Homo sapiens: one gene and its partners. The main gene of each other region encodes a partner of the protein of the gene in region 3 in a complex. Each region holds a gene or a part of one and is shown on either strand. Other genes may lie near its edges. The genes, in order: GPKOW, SNRNP40, CWC27, BUD13 and SNW1.

Region 1 (3,947 bases), on a different chromosome or scaffold from region 3:
TTCTTGTCAAACTCCTGCTGGGAGACAGGCCGCAGGTAGTACTCACTAACAGTCACCACCCGGCTCCCCACAGCCAGACGAACCATGGCCCGAACATTGTCAGGATCAAGGCCTTCCACCTAAAGTGTTGAGGGGAAGAAGTCAGGTAGGGGTTGTGGACTCCACCCACATTCCTAGGACCAAGATGTCAACCCCTTACCTCTAAGAGGCCTGCTTCCTCTGTCTCCCCAACCAGACTCTGACCCCTGAGAAGTGGGACCAGGTCTGGTTCCTGTGTCTCCCTCAGCTGACTGTGGGGCTTCCTTGGATCCTTTAAGCATTTAATCTTCAGGGACTTGTGGCATATGGCATTCTCTTCCTTTTAGCTGGGAACTGAGGCTCACAAAGGCCAGCAAGTGGTCCTGGGTTACTGAGTGAGGCAGTGGGCCAAGCAGACCTAAAAGACTAGGAGTCCCAGCCTTTCTACCTCAAATCCAATTATTCCTCCATCTGACCCTCGGATCAACCTTCCCTGCTGCCTGTTTTGGGCTCCCGGGATATCTTGGTTCCTTACCTTCCCATAGAGGCCTCGGTGAGGGCCAGAAAGAACCACCACAGCTCCTCCAGGCACCAGCCCTTGAGGCTGATCTTCCTTATCTTTCTCTTGCTCCTCATCTGGTCTTGGCATGCGGGAGGGGCCAGTGGGGGTCAAGGCCTGGGCCTCGGTCAGGTTGGCACCCAGCCCTAACCCCTTGGGCCTCAGTGAGTTGACACGGGGCTTCACTACTCTGCAGGGAGGAATATGGGTTTGTTGGAGAGGATGCAACAGTCTTCAACACCTTATTTACTTCCTCTTCCTGCCCAAACCCGCCCCACCCGCCCCATTGACATTTTCTTTTCTTTTCTTTTTTTTTGGAGATGGAGTTTTGCTCTTGTCATCCAGGCTGGAGTACAATGGCTCGATCTCGACTCAATGCAACCTCCACCTCCCAGGTTCAAGGGATTCTCCTGCCTCAGCCTCCCGAGTTGCTGGGGTTACAGGCGCATGCCACCATGCCCGGCTAATTTTTGTATTTTTAGTAGAGACAGGGTTTCACCATGTTGGTCAGGCCGGTCTTGAACTCCTGACCTCAGGTGATCCGTCCTCTTTGGCCTCCCAAAGTGCTGAGATTACAGGTGTGAGCCACCGTGTCCAGCCCCCACCAATATTTTCAAGGTTGCCCTTTCTGATCTCATATTAGGACTGTTTTTGACCTACAGAAACAGCAATTTCATTTGGTTCAACCTAATAACATGCTGCATATACCATCTATTACATAATATCTACAGTGAGATCAGAGGCAGATCGCTGTAACCAAATATACTATTTCTACAGGGGAAATCATATGAACATTCACACCGAGCAGGAGAAACCGGATTATAAATACTCAACATGGTTGGGCATGGTGGCTCATGCCTGTAATCCCAGCACTTTGGGAGACCGAGGTTGGTAGATCACCTAAGGTCAGGAGTTCAAGACCAGCCTGGTCAACATGGGGAAACCCCATCTCTACTAAAAATACAAAAATTAACCAGGCATGCTGGTGCATGCCTGTAATCCCAGCTACTCAGGAGGCTGAGGCAGGACAATCACTTGAACTCAGGAGGTAGAGGTCGCAGCGAGCCGAGATTGCGCCACTGCATCCCAGCCTGGGTGACAGACAGAGACTCCATCTCAAAAAAAAAAAAAAAAAAAAAAAAAAAACGCCAATTCAGGTCATATTTGGCTGCCAATGGGTTATGAAAAAATGTTTGGTTTTCAGAATTATTGAGTTTGCAATTGTGAAGAAAGGGTTGCAAGTCTGCATGACAATAGCAAATGTTTAGTCTACGCTTTCTTGGGGTCAGGGCCTACTGTATGTGCTTTATGTATATAATTTCTTTTCCTTTTCCTTTTTTTTTTTTTTTTTGAGACGGAGTCTCACTGTCACCCAGGCTGGAATGCAGTGGTGCAATTTCGGCTCACTGCAAGCTCCGCCTCCCAGGTTCACGCCATTCTCCTGCCTCAGCCTCCTGAGTAGCTGGGACTACAGGCACCCGCCACCATGCCCGGCTAATTTTTTGTATTTTTTTTTTTAGTAGAGATGGGCTTTCACCGTGTTAGCCAGGATGGTCTCGATCTCCTGACCTCGTGATCCACCCACCTCAGCCTCCCAAAGTGCTGGGATTATATGTGTGAGCCACCACACCCGGCCCTAATTTCTTTTCTTAAAATTAATTAATCTTTTGTAGAGATGGGGCCTCCCTATGTTGCCCAGGCCAGTCTCAAACTCCTGGAGTTAAGTGATCCTCCTGCCTCAGTCTCCGAAAGTGCTGGGATTACAGGCATGAGCCACTACCTGGCCTATGTGTATAATTTCATTTAACTCTCACAACAGACCTATGAAGTCAGTACTATTACCCCCATTTTTCAGATGAGGAAATTGATGTCCCTAGAGGCAAACTTTATATAAATGGGATTCTATTAGAGTTTCAAAGGGCAAATGGGAGTTTAAAACAGTAGTGGAAGGGGCTGCTGAATTAGTTAGGGCGATAATGTATCCTCCCTCCCTGCCTAGGTGGTTCTGGTTTGGCAGTGACCCTGGGGATCTTGATTGCAGCCTGATGATCTGTCTGTCCCCTCGACCCTATCCCAGAACTCACTGATTGAAGGTGCGGCCGATGCCCTCGCCAGGTTTCCAGCCCATGCCCCGCAGCATGGCCAGCCCATAGGCCTCCACGGGGACCGCCTCATAATTAGCCTCCTCTGGCACCTACAGGTTCAGGTAGAGGAAGGAGGGTCAGGCTTTGCTTACACTGGGTCTTCTATTTGAAGTGCACTTGCTGCCCCCCACTGGGAGACCTGCTACGCGTCTTTTCCAATCAGCTCAAGGGTGAGTTTTGATTTCCTCTTTCCATCCCTCACTGTACTCCTCCATGTTCAGTCCTTCAACAAATATAAAGCACCTTGTCTATGGCAAGTACTGTTCTAGGTACTGGGGATGAAGCTGTGAACCAAACAGACAAAAACCCCTACCCCTGCAGAGCTTCTGATCTAGTTGTGGAGACATACTATAAATAAAACCCAGAAAACATGATATGTCAGGTGGTGATGTAAAGAACAAGAAAACAGGGTAAGAAGATGCAGAGGGATGGAGAGGGAGTGCCACTGGGTTGACATTTAAGCAGAGATCAGGAGATGACAGCAGAGGGAGCCATGAGGATATGAGAAGAAAGTGTCCCAAGCTGAAAGCATAGTAACAGCAAAGGCCCTGAGGCCGGACAAGGCTTGGTATGTGTGAGGGGTATCATGAAAGTCACCATGACTGAAATGGAGAGAGTGAGAGTAGACAGCAGAGAAGGGTGGGGAAGAGACCAAATCAGGAGAGCTGGGCAGGAGTCAGAGGACCTTGAGCCAGGTGGGAGCCACAAGAGGGACCAGTGAGGAAATTACTCTAATAGTCCAGATGAGAGATGCTGGTGGCTCAGCCCTTTGCAGTGGTATTGGTGGTGGTGAGAAGTGGTCAGTTCTGGGTGTCATTTTGAAAAAAGATGATAGGATTGTGCTGGCATATTGTATGGGGCACGAAATAAAGAGAGGAATTGAGGATGACTCCAAGGTTTTCTTTTTTTTTTTTCTTGAGATGAAGTCTTGCTGTGTTGCCCAGGCTGGAGTGCAGTTGCATGATCTCAGCTCACTGCAACCTCAGTCTCCTGGGTTCAAGCGATTCTCCTGCCTCAGCCTCCCGAGTAGCTGTGATTACAGGCACGTGCCACCATGCCCAGCTAATTTTTGTATTTTTACTAGTGATGGGGTTTCGCCATGTTGGCCAGGCTGGTCTTGAACTCCTGACCTCAGGTGATCCGCTGGCCTCAGCCTCTCAAAGTGTTGGGATTACAGGCGTGAGCCACCGCCCCTGGCTGACTCCAAGGTTTTTATGCTGAGTGAG
Region 2 (3,947 bases), on a different chromosome or scaffold from region 3:
GCTCTCTGGTTCACCTTCAGGCTCTGCACAAGCAGGAAGTGAAAGCTAAGGAGAGATGTAAACTGCATGGCAAGGAGTTGAAGGCAGGCTCCAACATACAAAAAGACAATCTGCAAAGACTGGGAGAATTTTTGTTCTTGTTGTTGTAGGTAATTTAGGAAACTTGTGTCATTCACTAGCTGACCACTAAGCTAACGAAAAAAAGAATTCAGTGGTCACACAGGACAAAGAATACAAACTTTACAAAATTAGTTCAAAAATTCACTAAACAGGCCGGGCATGGTGGCTTACACCTGTAATCCCAGCATTTTGGGAGGCCGAGGTGGATGGATCACTTGAGGTCAGGAGTTCAAGACCAGCGTGGCTAACATGGTAAAACCTTGTTTCTACTAAAAATACAAAAATTAGCTGGTCATGGTGGTGTGCCCCTGTAACCCCAGCTACTCAGGAAGCTGAGGTGCAAGAATCACTTGAACCCGGGGAGTGGAGGTTGCAGTGAGCCAAGATCGCACTACTGCACTCCAGCCTGGGCTACAGAGCGAGACTTCGTCTCAAAAACCAACCAACCAACCACTCTCACCTTACCCCAACCCACAGAAAGTCACTAAACAAACAACTACAATAAGCAGCTCTGGGGACCTAATTTCCAGAGTCACCACGCTATAATATTTAAATGCCTAGTTTTCAACAAAATATAAGGCATGCAAAGAAGCAAGTAACTATGGTCCATATAGAAGGAAAAAGTAGTCTTCTCAACAAATTGTGCTAAGACAACTGGCTAACCACATGCCAAAGAATGAAGGTAAGCCCCTGCCTAACATGATACACAAAAATTAATTCAACATGGATCAAGGACCTAAATGTAAGAGCTAAAACTATAAAATTCTTAGAGGGCCAGGTATGGTGGCTCATGCCTGTAACCCCAGCACTTTCGGAGGCCGAGGCCAGGAGGATGGCTTTAGCCCAGAGTTAGCGACCAGCCTGAGCAACATGGTGATTCCTCATCTCTACAAAATAAAAACAAAAAGTTGGGTGTGGTGGTATATGCCTATAGTCCCAGCTACTTGGGAGGCTGAGATGGGAGGATCGCTTGGGCCAGAGAGGTTGAGGCTGCAGTGAGCCGTGATTGCGGATCTGTACTCCAGCCTGGGTGAGAGTGGCGGCATCTCGGCTCACTGCAACCTCTGCTTCCGTGTTCCAGCAATTCTCCTGCTTTAGCCTCCTGGATAGCTGGGATTACAGGCATGCGCCACCACGCCCAGCTAATTTTTCTATTTTTAGAAGAGACGGGGGTTTCACCATGTTGGCCAGGCTGGTCTCGAACTCCTGACCTCAGGTGATCCACCCACCTTGGCCTCCCAAAGTGGTGGGATTACAGGCGTGAGCCACTGCACCCGGCCAAGACCCCATCTCTTAAACAAACAAACCCTTATAGCTCTACTTTTTTAAAGCGTGGATAACACAGAGAGGGCTCAGAGATGTTTCAATAAATGAATGACACACTTGAGAAGATGAACCACAAGTAAATGATTTAAAAGTATGGGTCGTTTCATTCAGAAGAAAGAGACTTTGGGATGACTGTTCCAAGTTTTAAAGGGCTGGCATCAAAAAGAAAGGAATCAGCCATGGAACTTTAGGGAAGGTCATAGGCTTAACTTCAATCCTGTAGTCAACAAGGAGAGTCTGAGTAGGATCTGTGCCAAGATGCCTCTTCCTCCCAATTCTCATGGTTTAGGATGAAAAGTAGTTTCTTCTTTGTTCATGTAAATACGAACTAAAAATTAGTTCATTACTCAGATAAATGGTCTAAAAAGAACGCTTCACTCCTCTCCTACATGCCCAACATCTCCTACTCCCCCAACTCCTGTGGTTACAGAATCAAGTCCAAACTTCTTAACCTGGAATTCAAGGCCTTAATAATTTAGATCCTATATATTTTATAAACTGTACTATAATCTTTGTCTCAATAGATACTTCACTCAGGTCAAATCTATCTTTGTCTTTCTCCTAAAAGTCATGGTAGTCAAAGTTTGTTTAAAATAATTTAGAATTTTAGTTCCAGATAACTACCACTTTTAATAATTATTTTACTTTGAAGCAATCATAAATTTATAGAAAACTTGGAAGTAAAAAGAACACTTTTTTTGGTCTAAATCATTTGAGAGTAAGTTGCTTACCCAATGCCTTATCACCTTTTTTTTTTTTTTGAGATGGGAGTCTCACTCTGTCTGTTGCTCATTCTGGAGTGCAGTGGCGTGATCTCCGCTCACTGCAACCTCCACCTCCCGGGTTCAAGCAATTCTTCCTCAGCCTCCTGAGTAGCTGGTATTACAGGCATCTGCCACCATGCCCGGCTTTTTTGTATTTTTAGTAGAGACAGGGTTTCTTCAAGTTGGCCAGGCTGGTTTCAAACTCCCGACCTCAAGTGATCCACCTGCCTAGGCCTCCCAAAGTGCTAGGATTACAGGCATAAGCCACTGCACCTGGCCCCTTATCACTCCTAAATAGTGTCTGTCCTACAAAGATGTTCTCCTACATCATCTCAACATAACCATCAAAATCAAGAAATACAGATACACTATCACCATTTTATCCTCAAATCCCACTCAAGTTTTACCAGTTATCCCAAATGTCTTATTGCACAAGGATTCAGTCTGGAATCATATGTTAAATTTAGACTCCAGTCTGCAAGACTCTCTCAAACTTTCCTTGAGTTTTATGAACTCAACACTTCTGAAAGTTACAGGTCATCATCCCCAATTTAGGTTTGTCTTATGTTTCCTCTTGATTAGATTTAAGTTATACATCTTTGGTAGGAATATCACAGAAATGATGCTGCATCTTTGTTGTATCCTAGCAAATGGTTCATGATTTTGTCTTGTCCCATTACTAATTAGGTCGATTTGATAATTTAGTTAGGATGTTCTTTTGACAAAATAAGCCTTGACAAGTACAAGGCTTATCTTGTACTTTCACTGCCCCTGGGCTGAAATAGGAGCCCTGGTTCCTTTTAATGGAAAACAGTACCTGTGCAGTAAGGGGTGCTATTGCTATTGGGGTCTTGTTGCTCCTAAACCTTTTCAGTGGACAGTCAGGCAATATATGTACATTTAGGTACACACACACACACACTCACACATTTATGTCTATTTTTTTCTATATGTTTCTATATTGAATATTGTGAGTTCACACTTATACCTCACACAAGATTCATTTTAGTCTTCTCTTTTGTACTGGTAACTCTGTTCTTGGACAGAGAAATCAGCCTCCCATTAAATTCAATATATTCACTTATTTGATTATGCTTCCTGCATGCAACCAGTTTCCCATATTCTCTTCCACCCTTCCCTACTTGAATTGTGATTCCCATTCTTGGTTGAAGCCATGTGTGACTCTTCCTTAACCAACTTGGGTCATTCCTCTGTGTGAACACCCTCATCACTCTGCTACGGCTCTTTTCCAGTCTGCACTTCTCCAAGCATGCAGTCATCATCTTGCTCAGTCTCAGACTCCCTACACCAAATCATTTCTACCCTGTGTGGATGCCCTCAGTTCAGGCTTTGACATCCACATTCTCCCCGTACTGCTTCACGTACAGGCGACCCTTTCACCCCATTAGGGCACTGTTGGGCTGCTGCCCCTCCCTCACCCTCAAATTCCCCACACTGGTTACCTACCCTGTGTTGTATGGATGCCTTCCTCACTCTCTGACTACTCCCTACAATGTACTGCCCTGCCCAGTGTGGATGCTCTCCTTACCACACTTGTGCTCTGACACTCTACTCTGGGCCACCTTGGCCCATCTCTAACTAGAGCACCTTCCCTGCTTTGGCCTATATAACTGGCTTTAGGACTGAACTGCTCATGAAAGGGAAATTTATATATATATGAGTACATACACACATACACGCAGTATTTCACTTAATTTTATTAGAAGAATGCACTTG
Region 3 (3,947 bases):
TTAAACAGTAAAAAAAGGGAAGAAAAAGCATACCAAAAGAAGGGGAACTAGTATGAGGACATGTATGAAAGTGGAAACGGAAAGGAAATGCTTAGGAAATAATGTCCAACTAAAACCATGTGGTTAGTGCAATGAGCTAGAAAGTTGGATAGCTAGGAAGCCAAGCTGCCTGAGGATTCAAATACCATATAAACAAGGAAGAGAGAAAAGAAATTAAGGATGAAAGACAGGAAGGGGAGCAGGCAAGAGGCAATTACAGTCATACAGGTGAAAGGCAGACTGGGGAAGAAATTGGTAAATTTGGTTTTACACTGGTTTTGTTATAGCTAACAGTGGAAGGCTCCAGTTGAAAAGTCCACTAGGCAATTAGATATGTAAATTAGTACTAGGAAGAGAAGAAATGACTGAAGTTCTTAATGTGGTAGTCATTTGGACTGAAGTAACAACTAGAGAGTGATGACAATAGAGAACTAGAGGCAATCTTAGGGAATACCCAAATTTAGAGAATGAAAGGAAGAAGCGTAAGATAGCAAAGAAGACCAAAGAGGATCACAGTATTATTTGTTGAGATAAACTGCTCTGTTGAAAGTATTCAAATTTATTTGGGATAACATTTATCTCTTATCTCTACTTCCGGACACCCAGCTCAATACCATATCCTCATAGCAACACCTGTCATTCATGACCACTATTTAACACTAGTCTTCAATGTTGTGAAGCAGACACTGCAGTTTATTTTTAAATTAACAAGAATTTCTCCAGTAGAATAAAAGTCAACATACCTTCCAAACAAAGTTGGATAAAATTTCTGCAAGCTTTAGGAGCTTCTTTGGACCACAACTCTATGTCAATATCTCCAGCTGTAGTTTTCAATAAAACCTGTAGAAAGAATATTACATTTTATTAAATTATTATTTTGCTTAATAATCAGTTGAATAACTATTTGACTTGTAGCAATCACTAGTGAGTTTTCAATTTTAAAAGAAATATTAAAAATTGTGTTTGGCTTTTGTTGATATACTCAACAAAATGTCAAATATTCACTACAACTCATTGTACATTTAGATCTTTCAAAATACCATTTCAGAAAAAGTTTGGGATTTAAGAAAACAATAGCATATATCTTTTTTAATCACAGAAAAAAACTTCATTCATTTAGAAAACGGTAATATCTAAAGTGAGTTCACTTGAGGCTAGGAGTTCAAGAACAGCTTCGGCAACACAGACAGACCCTGTCTCTAAGAAAATTTGTTTTAATTAGCCAGGCATGGTGGTGTTCCATGCTATTTGGGAGGCCGAGTTGAGAGGATCACTTGAGCCTGGGAATCTGAAGTAATAGTGAGCTATGATCATGCCACTATATTCCAGCCTGGATGACAGAGCAAGACCCTGTCTCAAAATAAAATAAAACATGACAAAACCCCAATAATGCAAATTTGTTATAATTGAGTTTCCCATTGCATCAATTCCAATAAAACTGTGTAGCAAATTAAGAAATTAAAGAATAATGAACCCATTAAATTGTGACATTATAGGACAATTTTATAATTACCCTTTTTAATTACCTTTTACTCTCTCTGCTCATTTAACATCATGCTATTCCTAATTTACAAAGGAACATTCTTAATCTAATTCTGGCTTGTGATTTACTAAAATACTATGTCTTAAAATCACCTTCTATAGTAAATAGAATCCCGTGATAGCCTTTCCACCAGCTCATAACAGCAGATACTCCTTGGTAGAACCAGAAACTTTGCAACTAGAACCCCTCCCTGCTGGGCCCACAGGAAACAGTTTATAACTGTCTTATTTATAACCACAAATAACCAAAAAGAATGTTAGGCTCTAAATTTGAACATTGTGGCATAGCTGGAAACCAATTTCTCCAGTATTACTTCTTCTTTTTTCTCCCCTAGTATACCAAAGTAGATCAGTGTCAATAATTTGTGACCATCACAATCTTTTAGAATGCTCTTTCAAGTAAAGAGTATGCAATATAACTGTTCAAAAACATGAGGCTGTTTCTCATAGGTCAGTATCATCAATGCTAAGTCACATTTCACCACCCTAAAAAGAAACCCTGTACTCATTAGCAGTCACTCCCTATTTACCCCTACTCCTACTCTCTGGCAGCCACTAATCTACTTTCTGTCTGTGTAGATTTGCCTATTAAACATTTCATATAAACAGAATCATACAATATGTGGCCTTTTGTGTCTGGCTTCTTTTACTTAGCATAATGTTGCTTTCAAATTATATAGGGGTCTTTCAGTTCTACACATCTAGTTTTTAAATGTCTTGAAAATCACAATGACTTTATACTCTTACTGGTAAATATTTCAAGACACAATATATATTTAAGGCAAAGTTCACCATTGAAAACAATAAATAGAAATCCATATTTCCAATGGTCTTCATAATAATTTCTGATTTTTTTGACAGACTTCCCATGCTGAGGTATCAGCTCTATCATGTTCTTATGATTTGCTTGTTTATATTATTAATAATATCTTCAATAAGAAATTTGTGATGGCTGGTTTAGTTAATCTAAATACTATGGTCTATAAATCTATTTGGCTAGTCGTTATGAAAAATTACACCACAATGCCAAAAAAGTGCCTTTTTTTTTTTTTGAGACAGAGTCTCACCCCGTTGCGCAGGCTGGAGTGCAACGGCACGATCTCGGCTCACTGCAACCTCTGCTTCCCGGGTTCAAGCAATTCTCCTGCCTCAGCCTCCCGAGTAGCTGGGACTACAGGCACCCACCGCCACACCCAGCTAATTTTTTGTATCTTTAGTAGAGACGGGGTTTCACCATGTTGGCCAGGCTGGTCTCGAGCTCCTGATCTCATGATCCGCCCGCCTCAGCCTCCCAAAGTGCTGGGATTACAGGCATGAGCCACTGCGCCTGGACTTTTTTTTTTTTTTTTTTTTTTTTTTTTTTTGAGACAGAGTCTCACTGTCTCCCAGACCCGAGTGCAGTGGTGTGATCTCAGTTCACTGCAACCTCCACTTCCTTGGTTCAAGCAATTCCCCTGCCTTAGCCTCCTGAGTAGCTGGGATTACAGGCTCACAACATCATGCCCGGCTACTTTTTTTGCATTTTTTTTAGTAGAGACAGGGTTTCACCCTGTTGGCCAGATTGGTCTTGAACTCCTGACCTCAGGCAATCTGCCATAGTCTCCCAAAGTGCTGGGATTATAGGCATGAGCCACTGCACCCAGTCATCATCTTTTTATATATATTAAATAATGAATTTAAACAAAGGAAAAAAATACAAATATATATAGATTTTCTCCCCACAGCTCATGGATGGTTTTGCACACCCACTGAAGTATGCACTCACTGGTTTAGAAACCACTGCTCTAATGAACACACTAATTACATCATCCCTCCCTCCACAGGCTCTGGAATCAGGATGCCCAAATTCAAATACTGGCCCTTCCATTTACTAGCTTTGTTACCTTGCGCACACTATCTGACATCTCTGTCACTTAATTTCCTAATCTAAAAACGGGATAATAATATCTTTTAGGATTTCTGTGAGGACAAAATGAGCTGTAATACATAGACTGCTTAGAAAAGTAAATGACAAATAATAAGTGCTCAAAAAATGATAGTCATTATTACGTGGTTTTTTGGCCACAGGCAACTTACACCTAGTAAAAAGAATGCATATATAATCGGGCCACTTTGCTCACCAGGGTTTCTTAATCTTTTCATTAATAAGCTACTGAATTAATAAAGAAGGTATATGGCTCCTTCCTCCTCTGGCCATACATTCTCTTTGGTCATCACTACTTTGTAGGCCTCCTTGGCTCTTTCTCTTAAAATTCCCAATTAATACCTTGATAATATCATGTTTCTTATAAACATATATGCAAATATACTTATAAAGCCATTTTGATTTTCAAGATATTTAAAAACTAAGTGTGTACAACAGGAAG
Region 4 (3,947 bases), on a different chromosome or scaffold from region 3:
AAGGATCTGGAGAATCATGACGGGCCCTCCTTGGGGGTGAAGTGTCTGAGGAGTCATGACGGATCCTCCTGGGAGGAGATGTGTCTGAGTCATGACGAGCCCCTCTGAGGGGAGAAGGATCCGGGGTGTCATGACGGGCCCTCCTAGGAGATGGATCCGGGGTGTCATGACGGTCCTTCCTAGGAGATGGATCTGGGGTACCATGACGGACCCTCCTAGGAGATGAATCCGGGGTATCGTGACGAAAATGTCTGTTTGAGGGTAGGTCTTCGTTGTGGCCTAAACACAAATAACAAAGAGTCAGATTCCCACAAATGCTCTGTCCCTCTGTCCACCCCCACACCCAGTTTCAAAAGATGCTCCAGTAGCACATACCTCAGAACTGCTCAGAAAGCCCAAAAGGCCTGCACAGTTTTCTTGCTTAGGGGCAGCAAACCACCACTCATGAATATCTTAAGAATAACCCCTCCGCCTACCAAGTCATAAATTTGCAAAGCATTTTCAGCACATTTTTCATATTATACCCTTTAAGGTAAGCAGGGCAGGTACCCTTGTATTACAGCATGAAAACAGAGGCCACAGCCTCTGTTTTCAGCTGAGGAGCTGAGTGATTTCTTACCTAAGGTCACAGCTCCTAAAATGAAGACACAGGCTAGAATCCAAGTCTTCTAACTCCCAGTCCAATGTTCTTTCTAAAACCTCATTTGTGCAGAGTTCCCAGCTAGTGGCTCCTACTGATATTTTGCCTAGATACTTTATAGTTTGTACTCACTCTTCTTTCAATAGGTAAATTGACTAAAACGGTGAATATCAAAATAAAATGCTGTTAACTATTTAATCCATTTCACTGTGCTCTTTCTTAGAGAGGGGAAAAATCACCATAAAAAAGAAAGGAGCAAGTAATTACCAATCACCTACTGTGTGCCAGTGTTTCATAGAGATTACCTGATTCAATTCTCACAACAAGCCTAGGACATAAATACTGTCATTTCATTTATAGATGAGGAAGTTGATACTCAGAAAGATTAACTTGCCAAAGTCATATTGCTAATAAGTGGTAGAGGAATATTTAAATCCAGCTCTATTTGACTCCAGAGTCCATGTGCAATCTTTAAAATATGTAAAGCTTTAAAGTTAAAATACATAGTTTGAGACCTTCCATATTCAAAGGCACCACAGAATGAAATATCTATAGCAACTGGAACAGTTTCAAAATCCAGTTCTTCCTCTACCTCTATTTCTTGTCATTGAGCTCCACAGCCCAAATACAAATAAAAGCTGGGTAGGAACTGATGAATACTTGTTAAATGGATGAATTAAACCAAGTCAACTCCTTTACTTTGGGGAACAGCCCTATCTGATTGGAATCCACTCCACAGAGAAAAGTATGATGTCTGTGGGGGGCCTAACAGTAAATCTGAAGGAAGCAAGGGTCAGAGATTGGTAAGCGTACTTCCAATAACAAATTGGGATGGGGGAGTGAAAGCAAGGCAGAAGAAAAGGAGTGAGTGAGTGTGAGTGTGACTGTGTGTGTGTGTGACTGACCTTCTAAACATTCAGATACACAAGAAAAGGCACCGTGTGTATGTGTGTGTCTGTGTGTCTTCCTAGACAAACAGACATGGAGACCAAAAGATTCTCTTTGGAAAAGAATTCTGATTAGGCTACAAAAATCAAATACCTACTAGCAATTAAACAATTCTACAAATATTTATTAAAGGTAGCTCCTTGTGCTAGATAGGGGAATATCATGGCAAATAAGACTAGTCTATGCTCAAACAGATGTGACAAACAAATGCTTTTTATCCAATTCTCAAGGACTCAAATTTTTTTAAAGAGAGTTAAATTAAGATTATTAGCTTAGGAAGAGTCCAAAGTGGGCAAGTGGAGGGTAATGCACTATAAAACACCAATACTTAAGGAAAGAAGAGAGAAATTTACTAACACAAACAGAACAAAATACACTGGTCCTTGACCCCCCAGAAATGAGTTGCTTCATTGTGGAAGAGGATAGTGGTAGCTAAAGTCCCCAAATTCTGCTCCTGTTTCTTGTAAACTCCTCCCAAAGTCTTGCCTATACACCAAGTGCTCTCCTATTCTGAGTCAAAGAGGAATGGGTGCTCAAAGGCCTCCAAATTAGTCACCAACCTCAGTAATCCTAATGCCAAAATATAAGAGAAAGAGGAATATCTGGTCTATAAGTTCCTATGTCTTACTACCTCTGAAGAAGTCCAACTTCCTTTTTCCTGCTTTATTTTTCAGGATCAATGACATGCTAAAACAAACTATGCATTCCTCTAAAGAAAAGTATAGAAAAGGAAAAAAGATCTCCCCTACTAATGGAAATTTAGATTTATCTATTGTTGGAACTCACCTCCCAGAAGCTTCCATTTGGCACTGGAACGAAAGGCCTCCATCTGCTTTACCTCTTCTGGCCGCTCATCCACAAACTCTGCCACCTGTGAGAGTAAAGATTTCCTATCTTAGGAAATCCACAGGATCCAGCCAAGAAGCACTGTCTCAAGAACCTGAAGTTACAACCATTCCGATTCCTAACACAAGGGCGTACATATATCCAAAATGGTCATGAAGAAGTAAGTAGGGGTCTTCAGTTATGTTTGCTCCATAAACATCTGATTGTCACTGTATTGGTTTAATTGTAGATCCTTCTCTAATTAATCAATTACCCTGCAAAGGTTAATTTTTTTCATTACAAACCTTTTTATTAACCTGCTAGGTACACAACAGCCACTTGTAAACTAACAACTAAATTCCTTTTACACTTTTACTTCTACATTAACAGTGGAAACATAGGTGGCTCCCCCCATCATGCCTAGCACTAATCAAGGACTTTGGGTTTCTATGAATCCTTTCTTGTTGTAGGTAGTCACAGTGATAGGTTTTCTTGAATACAACCAAAAAGAGCCACTGAGATGTACACAGAATCATTAATCTTTAAGAGCTAAAACCACATTTCATATCTTCTAAACTTCTGAACAAATCAGAATCTTCTCTATAGTATTCCTAATAAGTGGTCACTCGCCCAATCCCTTCCTGACAAGGAACTCATTATCTTACAACACAGTCCACTGCATTTTTCAAAAATGTTAGAAAGTTCTTAGTTTTACTAGTACCGTATCTGCCTTCCTATAACTTCTTTGAATTCATTCTAGTTCTGACCTGTGATGTAAGTCCACATGACAAACTTTCAAGATTGCTGGCATAATAAATCCTAGTTACAGAGTAGCAACTATGTGCAAGGTACTGTGTTTTGTGGTTTACTCATATAATCTAACTCGATTCTCACAATAATCCTGTAAAGAAAGGCTCCACACTACTGAATAGCAAACTGATTCGGAGAAGTTCAGTAACTTTCTCAATGTCACAAGCTAACAAGTGGCAGAACTGGAATTTAAATCCAGGTCATAATAGCCCTCTACTTCTCCCAAAATCCTACCATCATTCTTCATATAACCCAGTTTTGAGATCTCTCACTGAGCGTTAAAAGCACAGGTTTCGGGCAAGATGAATTAAGATCTAAACCCCAGCTCGGCCACTTAGCATTTGTGTAACCTTTGGTAAATTATTCTAAGCCTCAATTTCCTCATTTGTAAAAGTGGGATTCAAAGGATTGCTATAAGGATTGAATGAGATAATTCACGTAAGCTTAGCCATGCTTGGTACATGATAAATGCCCAATAAATGACACCTATTAATTATTCCTGTGCTGCCACTGCTATCGTAATCATCATAATCGTTTTACCATTATTACTGGTGGTGGTGGTGATCTTGCAGTTACAAAAATGAATTCAGTAATCAAGATCTGTTTTAACCAATGCAGAGAGCAGTGGCACTAAAGCCTCCTTTGTTTAGGTTTTTGGGCCATCATAAAAGCAAGACAATATTATAAAAGAAAATGGCCAGGTGCGGTGGCTCATTCCTGTAAT
Region 5 (3,947 bases), on a different chromosome or scaffold from region 3:
ACTTGTAGTAAAAGCTTTATCTTTAGGTTAAAGGGCCATACATGATCTGGCCACTACTCTTCCCACCTGCCCTAACTATTCTGACACCTCATCTCCTACTTATCCCCTTCTTTCTCATACAAATCCAGTCATATTGGCCTGTCTGCTCTTCCTTGGGCCACACTAGGCATACTCCCATTTCAGAGCCATGTACTTGCTGGCCCTTCTGTGTGGGATGCTCTTCCCCCAGAAATCCACATGGTTTGCTTCCTTACTTTCTTCAAGTATTTCTGCTAACAGCACCATCTCAGAAGTGAGGGCTATTTGACCACTCTCACCTTCTGGCAATTTTATATCCTCTTTCCCTGTATTATTTTTCCTCCACAGCAATTATTACCTTTTACTATACTACATGATTAATTTCTGTCTGTCTACACTCACCAGAATGTTGACTGTTATATCCCATCCCCCTACCCACTGTCTAGCAAAAACACTTTGTGTCTAAAAGAGAACCTTGCACACAGCAGATGCTCAATATGAACTAAATAAATGAAAGAATGAATAAATGTACCAGGTAAGAATTTAGTAATGAAAAAAAAATAACCACCCTCACAAAATTTCTTGAATTATACTTAGGACTCGACTTCCCACTCTAATTGAATTAATACACCAATGTAGACCACTAAGTAAAGTCAGAGAGAAAATACTGGCAGATTTAATGATGAGAAATGCATTGGAGCCTACAAGATAGAAAAACTCTGGATTACTTCACCATATGAGGGAGCTGAATTATTCTGTTAGATACCTAATTTCTCTTAAGTTTTGAGATTAAGATAAGAGAAAATCAAGCCTATCATTTGAGTAATAATGCAATTTTGAAAAGTACACTGCTCAGAAGTTTAAAAATTTCTGGTACAGTCCCAAACTGAAGACCCACTTTTTTCTTATCTCCTGTTGCTTCAGCTTACTAAGGCAGAGATTACTCTCCATTTCTACACTATATCTGATGTATCTAAATTTTGTTTATATGTACCTACTTTATATGCAGTAGGAAAAAGATTTTCTAAAATAAGATATATTTTGTTCACCAAGCAAAATTCAATTCAGTAATGAGAATGTCATACCTTTTTCCACATGAGTTTTGATCCCAGCTCTTCTCTCCCTGGCTTTCTGGGCCATTTCTCTAAGTTTCTCTTCATGTTTTTCCTTTTCTTTCTGAGCCATTTTTCTCTCTACTTGGGCACGCATTTCCACAGCTTCACGAGCCTGTTGGTAAAGTCACATGTTAAACAGGACACTATCATGGGATAAATATTTATGGCTATCATCCAACTCCCTAACATCTGGCTGGTAAGAGCAATTATACAGAATTCAGATTTGTTATTGCTAATTAAAACAAAGAGTCTTGTCCACTAAAAGATATCCTGCCTGGAAGACACTGCAAGGTCAGCTTTTTTCTCTGGGAATATTTTAGTGATTGAAACTATCGTGACCCCAATTAATCTTGTAAGTCAAGTATTTCACTAATGCTTTCTCAGAAACAATCTAAAGAACAAAATTAAAGCCAGGCATAGTGGCTCTCTCCTGCAATCCTAGCACTTTGGGAGGCCAGGGTGGAAGGACTGCTTGAGCTCAGGAGCTTGGGACCAGCCTAGGCAACATAGTGAGATCCATCTCAAAAAAATAACATTTTCAAAATTAATAACACTTTCAAAGTTAATCAAGTCAACTCAAGATAAAATCTTAACTTACATCTGCTAGATAATTTTTATAAGGGTACTCACTGTGATACAAAAGACATTTTTTTTATGTTCCAAACACATGCTATGATGCATGTGAACTTCAATATCACATATTAATTCCATAATATTTATATTTACATATATTTTTTGAGATGAAGTGTCTTACTCTGCTGCCCAGGCTGAAGTGCAGTGGTGCGTTCTTGGCTCACTGCAACCTCCACCTCCTGGGTTCGAGAGATTCTCCTGCCTCAGCCTCCCAAGTAGCTAGGATTACAGGTGCATGCCACATCCAGCTAATGTTTGTATTTTTAGTAGAGATGGAGTTTCACCACATTGGTCAGGCTGGTCTTGAACTCTCAACCTCAAGGAATCCACCAGTCTTGGCCTCCCAAAATGCTGGGATTATACACATGAGCCATTGTGCCCAGCCTAATTCCATAATATTTAATACATTATGTAACATTAATAGATGGCCAATGCTATGAACGCCATTTTATGTACTATTCAATTCATTAGAATGTTTATCTGCCTTTTCCTGCAACTGCCCTTTTGGGGGACATCTACATCTAAAATAGAGGAAAATTTGAAATCAAAAATTATGAAACCTAGCAATCTTCAAAAAATGGGATCATCCTAGGAAACCATTATTCTGACATGTTGTGAGGGAGCCGGATCACCACTGTGGGGTGTATGTACACATCTACAAAAGCTGGGAGCATGCAGAGAGCTGCCAACTAGCAGCTGCCATTTCTGACACACGTACCATGGGTGAGACTCTCTTTGGGTGCTCGGTACTATAGTTAAATTATCAGTACCTTAGGTAACCAAGAATGGATTTTAAAAGTAACAAGAGCATTAAACAAATTATAACAAACCAACCTTCCGATCAGCAATGTAGAGGGCTTCTGCCAATTTGGCGAAATTTTCATTTATGTGTACTGTCTGTAGTCCTCTTCCATCAGCAGCCAGACGTTTGTCTAATGGAATTGTATAACCCTAGAGTGAAAGCAGACAGAAAACCCAGTCACAGAAGTGCTTCAATTAATCGTCTGAAGTTAAATTAATTTTATTTTTTTCGAGCTGGAGTCTTGCTCTGTCACCCTGGCTGGAGGGCAGGGGTGCCATCTCGGCTCACTGCAACCTCTGCCTCCTGGGTTCAAGCGAGTCTCCTACCTCAGCCTCCCGAGTAGCTGGGACCATAGGCGTGCGCCACACACTCGGCTAGTTTTTCTATTTTTAGTAGAGACGGAGTTTCACCATGTTGGCCAGGATGGTTTTGAATTCCTGACCTTGAGTGATCCGCCCTTGGCCTCCCAAAGTGCTGGGATTACAGGCATGAGCCATCGAGCCTGGCTAAAATTAAATTTAAATATGCCCACATTTTGAGAACCACTTAACTGGAGGTTCTTTTTCCTTGCATCTTTCTTCACAATGATGCAAAACAACAGCAGCTATCAATGAGTGCTTTATGTAGAAGATCAAGCACTTACACCTATGGTCTCATTTAACCTTCACGATAACTCTATAAAGCTTCTAACATTATTGTGTCCATTTCACTGATGCTTTGGTAACATCCCCAAGGTCATACAGTTAGTAAGTGGGCGATTAGGATTTAAACTCAGCAGGATTTCAGAACCCAAGCTCTGGAAAAATAGATATTTGTGTTAATAATTGTCGATTTTAATAAAAGGAAATCACTGTCAAACAGTTCAACAGTTGCTCCTCAAGTAAATTTAACAGTCAAACAAAGGTAGAATCACTATAATCTTAGCATCTATAGGAAGTTAAATCTGCTGTACTGTCTTAATGATCTGTTATATTCTTAGAATCCTGAAGTTTTAGTAAATAGAAAAAAAAGGCTGGGTGCAGTAGCTCAAGCCTGTAATCCCAACACTTTGGGAGGCCAAGGCAGGTGGATTGCTTGAGCCCAGGAGTTCAAGACCAGCCTGGCAACATGGTGAAACCCCGTCTCTACCAAAAATACAAAAAAGTAGCCAGGCATGGTGGGGCACACTTGTGGTCCCAACTACTCGGGAGGCTGAGGTGGGAGGATCGCCTGAGCCTGGGAGGTTGAGGCTGCAGTGAGCCATGATCATACCACTGTACTCCAGCCTGGGCAACAGAGCGAGACCGTCTCAAAAAAAAAAAAAAAAAAAAAAAAAACCAAAGAAAAAAGAAAAAAAAATGTTTGCTAAACAACTGAATTTCTACATTCTAAAACTTTGC

What was found.
Region 1: CWC27 (region 3) and GPKOW share a complex: the UniProt entries of both Homo sapiens proteins name them as parts of the minor spliceosome.
Region 2: CWC27 (region 3) and SNRNP40 share a complex: the UniProt entries of both Homo sapiens proteins name them as parts of the minor spliceosome.
Region 4: CWC27 (region 3) and BUD13 share a complex: the UniProt entries of both Homo sapiens proteins name them as parts of the activated spliceosome.
Region 5: CWC27 (region 3) and SNW1 share a complex: the UniProt entries of both Homo sapiens proteins name them as parts of the minor spliceosome.

Annotation. Positions count from the first base shown.
Region 1 is NC_000023.11:49,117,044-49,120,990, forward strand, and holds part of GPKOW (G-patch domain and KOW motifs-containing protein), read right to left. Parts: intron 2,772-3,947; coding exon 2,662-2,771; intron 768-2,661; coding exon 554-767; intron 120-553; coding exon 1-119. UniProt on the Homo sapiens protein: RNA-binding protein involved in pre-mRNA splicing. As a component of the minor spliceosome, involved in the splicing of U12-type introns in pre-mRNAs.
Region 2 is NC_000001.11:31,283,050-31,286,996, forward strand, and holds part of SNRNP40 (U5 small nuclear ribonucleoprotein 40 kDa protein), read right to left. Parts: intron 1-3,947. UniProt on the Homo sapiens protein: Required for pre-mRNA splicing as component of the activated spliceosome. Component of the U5 small nuclear ribonucleoprotein (snRNP) complex and the U4/U6-U5 tri-snRNP complex, building blocks of the spliceosome.
Region 3 is NC_000005.10:64,771,623-64,775,569, reverse strand, and holds part of CWC27 (spliceosome-associated protein CWC27 homolog), read right to left. Parts: intron 880-3,947; coding exon 783-879; intron 1-782. UniProt on the Homo sapiens protein: As part of the spliceosome, plays a role in pre-mRNA splicing. Probable inactive PPIase with no peptidyl-prolyl cis-trans isomerase activity. As a component of the minor spliceosome, involved in the splicing of U12-type introns in pre-mRNAs.
Region 4 is NC_000011.10:116,762,988-116,766,934, forward strand, and holds part of BUD13 (BUD13 homolog), read right to left. Parts: intron 2,460-3,947; coding exon 2,375-2,459; intron 280-2,374; coding exon 1-279. UniProt on the Homo sapiens protein: Involved in pre-mRNA splicing as component of the activated spliceosome. As a component of the minor spliceosome, involved in the splicing of U12-type introns in pre-mRNAs.
Region 5 is NC_000014.9:77,729,885-77,733,831, forward strand, and holds part of SNW1 (SNW domain-containing protein 1), read right to left. Parts: intron 2,718-3,947; coding exon 2,601-2,717; intron 1,246-2,600; coding exon 1,104-1,245; intron 1-1,103. UniProt on the Homo sapiens protein: Involved in pre-mRNA splicing as component of the spliceosome. As a component of the minor spliceosome, involved in the splicing of U12-type introns in pre-mRNAs.